Regions from separate parts of the Homo sapiens genome. Here region 2 is linked to region 1. Evidence: fine-mapped expression QTL. A gene starts in region 1. The other region holds a variant in brackets. All regions are shown on one strand. Distances are between the middles of the regions.

Region 1 (2,716 bases):
CTTCCTCAAACAAGAGACGTGACTCTGAGGGACTTGTCCTTCCAGCTACAGGGGTCAGGAATTCAGAAGTGATTAGGGACCCATCCGTATCCCCTGGAACTCATCTGCTAGAGTAAACGTACAAATAGATAATTTCAAGACAAAGGCAGTTTACTTGCAGAGCTGAGTCAGGGCAAGGAGTGAGGAATTCTGCCCTGGGTCCAGAAAGGAGTAACACTGTAGCGGCTACTTCATAGCCCGCCTCCTGTCCCCTCATGCTGGGCCTCCTAGCCTGCAGGGACCTCACCTGTGGATGCAGCGGTCCGGGCAGAGCTCAGCCTCATAGAAGCCATCCCGGCAGTCCTTTCCTACAAGCTCGTGGGGGTGAGGCCGGTGAGGAGGGTCCTTGGTGACCAGGGAGATGCGCACTGTCCCTGGTCCTGTGTAGCCATTGATCTGTCCAAAGTACAGAGGCCCAGACATCCAAACCTGACTCCCAAACACAGAGGGCTGGGGTTCCACAGTCCCTTCCCCGCACACCCTGGCGCAGTGCTGACCTTGATGGTGGGGTGGGTCTTGGTGGTATCTGTGCTCCTCTCGCCTGGGATGCTGCCCGCGGAGCGCCCCTCGCACTTGTAGCGGAAGCGCATGCCCCGCTGCTTGGGCTGCTCAATGATCTCCACATAGGGGCCAGAGGCCTGGGCTGGCTCTGCCAGGGGACACCGCAGCCCCATTAGGCGGCTGCCCCCACTGCCCTACCCCAGGGAGCACCTCCCCGACCGCCGCGGGGGCCACTTACCTGCCGGGAAGATGAGGGGGAACAGTTCTGAAAGGGGAGGGAGATCAGGGTCAGCACACACCCAATGCCCATTCTCACAAGGAGGAATCTGCTCTCCACGGAGAGGAGAAGCCAGGCTCCCTCCCAGGGGAACTGAGTCAGGACCTGCTCCCTAGAACCTGCGGTGAAACTAAGGGGTGGAGGAAAGGAACCAGAAACACCTGCTTCTTGAGGGAAAACGGGGTAAGGAATCCTTCTTCTCCAGAGGGAAGCTGAATCAGGGCCTGTTGTACTTTCTTAAGGAAAATTGAGGGAGGGCACGCCCCACCTCCCTCCAGAGAGGAAACTGAATCAGATGCGTTCTCCCCTAATAGGGAAACGAAGCCAGAGCTGCCCCCATGGACGGTGTGGAGGGAAACTGAGTCAAGGTTCCCTCTGCTCCCCCACCCAGGGAGGATGCTGAGTCAAGGGCCACCCCCTCCACCCAGAGGGGAAACTGAGTCAGACCCCTCCCCGCCTGCCCCGCCCCGCGCCACCATCCGGCAGGCCGACCGCTCCCTGCGCAGCGCCCGTCGGCGCAGGAAGGGGCGGAAAGCGGCGCGGGGGCTCCCGCCACAGCCGCGGCGGCCCCGGCGATGCCACCCCGCGGGGTCAGAGGGCGACCTCACCGTCCATGGCCGGGGTCCCGGGGGCGGGGCCGGGGTCGCAGCTGGGCCCGCGGCGTGCACTACAGACGAGCCATTCGCCAGAGGCGGAAATGCGCCGCGCGGCCCGCCGTCGCGTCACTGCCCGGAATCCGGCCGCGCCTGCGCGCTGCCCCGCCGCCGCCCGGCGCAGGGGCCGGGAGCAAGTGCACGCCGCGCGGAGGACGAAGAGGCTGCACGCACAGCCGCTGCCGGGGGTCGGGGCCAAGTGCGCGCCTCGCCGAGGACGAAGAGGCTGGCGTGCCCGGTGGCTCGGCTAGCTCCCGGGTCCCGGCCCCGCCTGGAGGGTGGGTCCGCCGATTACTCACTTTGTTTTTAGGGGATTTCAGGGCCCCCTCCCGCCGATCGGCGGAGTTTGGTGATGTCACTCTGGGCCGGGTCTGGAGCAAAGCCAGGGCTACTGGGCTGCGGCCGCCCGCCCCGCGCAGGGAAAAGCCCGACCGGGCCTTCTGCTCCGCAGAGGCCGGGTGGTTGAACTCCGCGCGGGTTTCCTAACCGCTAAAGGTGCCTTTCGGTGGTGGCTGTCTCAGAAGCACGTTAAAATGTCCTACCCACCCCAATCTAGATGCGGCTGTGGGGGAATGGGAGCGGCCGGACCTCCCAGCCTGACAGTGCATCAAGAGCTTTGCGGAGCCTACAGCCCGGATGGGACGACTGAGGCCCTCCCGCTGGCGAGCTGGCCGAGGGCTCGTCCCTCTCCAGCTAAAGCGCCAGCTTACGATACAGCCAAACTGCCGGCTCTCATCGGCTGTGGGAGCAGGAGGCCCCCAGGGGTAAATCCCGGAGCCTCGTCTCTGAAGCCTGGCGCTTGTGTCTCAGAAGGTGCGGGACCCACAGGGACACTTGAATCAGCAGGCTCACGACCCCCCACCCCCCTGCCCCCGCCTGTGTTTGCCCTGGACCTCCAGCTAGGGCTGACCACTAATTCTGTCATGTGACCCCACAGTGCAGGTAGCTCCCCCAAGACCAAGCCCAAGGCGCGTCCGTGTGGAGGCTGGGGCTGACGCACCCCCACCCCAGGCCTCATCCCCAAAGGAGGATGCTCCACTGCAGGGGGCGGAGTCTTCTCCAGATGGAGAAAGACTTTTTTATTTTCTCTGAATTCGTCTTAAATTAGGAAATCATGTGGGAATTGGAAAAGATTGGAAATTCTGACTTGTTTCCCAGGCTCTGAAGAAACAGGAAGAGAAAAGTGAAAATAGAGTTAGCACCCCGCCCACTCATTTCAGTTTCTCCAGTGGCTGGCCCTGATTAG
Region 2 (3,004 bases), 29 kb before region 1:
TCCCGTTAGCTTTGCCCTTCCCGTGGGAGTTACTGGGCTCTCAGACCTGCTTCTGCAGCTGGGAAGGGCTACAAGAGCAGGAAAAGGCACCGTGGCTTGAGGCTGCACGGAGTCTGGGCAGTGCTTCCCGGGAAGTACCTTGGGCAGAGCCCAGCTCGCAGTGAGCGCTCACAGGCGGAGCGGCTGCTGGTATTGCCCCCCGTCTTCATTTTCTTCCTAAGATGACCGTGAGTGTTGTGTCAGAGAAAAGGATGGCACTGGTGAAGGTTAACCAAGCACCTGATATGTGCCAGGCCAGCTCCTCTCCCGGTCCCTGAAGCTTTTCTTTTTTTTATTTTTTTTTGAAACAAGGTCTCATTCTGTCACCCAGGCTGGAGTGCAGTGGTGCCATCTGGGTTCACTGCAGTGTCCACCTCCCAGGTTCAAGTAATCCTCCTACCTCAGCCTCCCAGGTAGCTGGGACTACAGGCATGCACCACCATGCCTGGCTAATTTTTGTATTTTTTGTAGAGATGGGGTTTCGCCATGTTGTCCAGGCTGGTCTTGAACTCCTGGGTTCAAGCGATCCTCCCACCTCCACCTCCCGAAGTTCTGGGATTACAGGTGTGAGCCACCCTGTCTGGCTGAAGCTTTTCTTTTCTGGGTCTTTTTAGCAGCTCTGGTGGTGCCTGGATTGTAGAGGCGAGCTATGGGCAAGAAAGTCAGTCTGGAGCGGGTCTGCCCTGGCAAAGGGCCTGCCCCATTAGCTCCATCTTAGGGTGGCACATGGAATCCCCATCACCTCACTGGCTGCCCTGCCGGCCTTAACCCGCCCGTGCATCCTGGCCATGCCAGCTACCTGTCTTCCAAAGCTCCTGTACTTTTGCCCAACAGGGCCTTTTAACAAGAGGTCCAGGAGCCCCCAGCTTTGGGTACCACATGTGCCCGTGGCTTTTTTCTGAGGCGAGGCCTGATGGCTGTCATGCTTCAGCTGCCTAAAGGGACCTGTGACCCAGGCACTCTGAGGCAGGCCCACTACTTCAGCCTGCCCTTCCGGCCCCGAGATCTGGATCCCACAATGTCATGATGGGGAAGGTCCGGGGTTCAGGCGGCAGTTCAGTCTGTTCTGCCCCACTCGCTCCCCGCCCCCTGCCCATGTGACATCTGGATGCTCCCGCGCTCGGGGTTATGTTTGTGCAGGAACACCAGCTCCTGCTGCTACCTGGCCCACGTGCTGCACAGGCACTGAAGGTTCACCTGAGGGCCACACCATAGTGTCGGGGCCAGCCAGAGGCGGGTGGGGGACAGGGTTCAGGGCAGGTGGGGCCAGCTCCACCTTGATGACTTGGAAGCTGAGGTGGTAAATGTTGAGTGTGATGATCTTGTTCTCGTTGGGGGCTGCCATTTGTTTGAGCCTCAATTTCTCATACAAACGGGGCATATTCTAGGGCAGAGGCAGGCAGATGCTGCTTGTGAGTGCTAGCCCCAGCACAGGACTTCCTGCTCTGTAAGTGGGTGCTTCCTGGCGGCTTTGTCACTCCTCCCTGGT[C/T]TAGGGGAAGGAGCCAACTTGCTTGGTTGCTCTTGAGAGCTGAGATGGCTCTAGGAGCGGGGCATCCCAGAAAGCGGACTTCAGCTCAGTCTTGGGGAGGAGCCTCTGAACCTCCATGCTTTCTCCTCCAGTGGCCAGGGCCGGGACCCCGGCCTGACGCCTGCCCCTCCTCTCCCAGAGCATCATCTACTACGTGAGCCGCTCACCAAAGCTGGAGGTGTGGCTCAGCCATGAGGGCATCACGGCAGCCCTGAGGCCTGTGCGGGTGCCCGGCTATGCCGACTCGGATCCCACCTTCTCGCTGAGTGTGGATGAGGACTATGACCTCCGCCTGTCTGGCCTCTCGCTGCCCTCCTTTTGTGCTGTGCACCTCGAGTGGATCCAGTACTGCGCCTCCCGGCGCAGCCAGGTCAGGCTCCACTACCTGAGGCTGCCACCTGGGGCTGTGGGACCTGGGCTTCCCTGCTCCCCTTCTCCCCATTTGGTTTCCTCTCACTCTGAGCCTCCCTTAGCCTGAGCCCCAGCCCCCACTCCAAGGTCCCTGTCCCAGGTCTGAGCTGGGCTCTGGGATGGGGGTCCTTATGCCACAGCCCGTGGACCAGGATTGGAACTCCCCGCTGGTCACGCTGTGTTTTGGCCTGTGTGTGCTGGGCCGCCGGGCCCTGGGGACAGCCTCTCACAGCATGTCTGCAAGGTGAGTGCTCGGGTGTCCCGCGGGGCCTACTGCCGTCCCCACCCCACCTCTTCCACGAAGAGCACTGTGGTCTCTGGCCACAGTGGCCACAGAAACTGCAGTGGCCCTTCCTGTTGGGGTACCTCTTCTCCCACGGGCAGGGCACTTCCTGGTCATGACCTTGCCTGCTCCTCAGTGCTCTGTGAGAGACATGGGCAGAGATTGGCCTCTTTGTCAAGATGGGGAAACTGAGGCTCAGCGTGAGGAAAGGCCTCTGCTTGGATCACTCTGAAGCCTTACCCCTGGGTCCTCGACACCCCTCTCTCCCCTCCCTGTTTTTCCTCCCACTTAGCCTGGAGCCCTTCCTCTACGGCCTGCACGCCCTGTTCAAGGGGGATTTTCGCATCACCTCCCCACGTGACGAGTGGGTCTTTGCCGACATGGACCTGCTTCACCGCGTTGTGGCGCCTGGGGTTCGCATGGCCCTCAAGCTTCACCAGGTTGGGGAGGGGTGTGCCCAGCAGCATGGGCAGGTGGGGGATGAAGCCTCTCTCCAGGGCAGGGGCCACTGACCCCTGTTCCCGTCTTCTCTACCAGGACCACTTCACGTCCCCAGATGAATATGAGGAGCCAGCAGCCCTATACGATGCCATTGCGGCCAACGAGGAGCGGCTGGTCATCTCACATGAGGGTGACCCAGCATGGCGCAGCGCCATCCTCAGCAACACGCCCTCCCTGCTGGCGCTGCGCCATGTCCTGGATGATGCCTCCGACGAGTACAAGATCATCATGCTCAACCGGCG

The links. PIP is the estimated chance that this variant, and not a neighbour inherited with it, causes the effect. A credible set is the group of variants that fine-mapping cannot tell apart.
Region 2: its variant is the best candidate, but not a certain one, in a credible set for the expression of RELA-DT in whole blood (INTERVAL, PIP 0.57).

The regions. Positions count from the first base shown.
Region 1 is chr11:65,661,401-65,664,116 of GRCh38, forward strand. RELA-DT (RELA divergent transcript) reads left to right here and starts at 1,606. Exons shown (of 4, transcript NR_183625.1): 1 at 1,606-1,748. RELA (RELA proto-oncogene, NF-kB subunit) reads right to left here and starts at 1,516. Exons shown (of 11, transcript NM_021975.4): 1 at 1,426-1,516; 2 at 779-805; 3 at 537-688; 4 at 287-435. The coding sequence starts at 1,432. RefSeq lists silencers at 1,203-1,262, 1,323-1,732 and an enhancer at 1,823-2,022.
Region 2 is chr11:65,632,420-65,635,423 of GRCh38, forward strand. PCNX3 (pecanex 3) reads left to right here. Exons shown (of 35, transcript NM_032223.4): 28 at 1,707-1,937; 29 at 2,119-2,222; 30 at 2,554-2,701; 31 at 2,799-3,004. Among named protein-coding and RNA genes, the nearest start is that of MIR4690, 2.4 kb to the right of the region's middle. The variant C/T (reference allele first, on the strand shown) is at 1,529.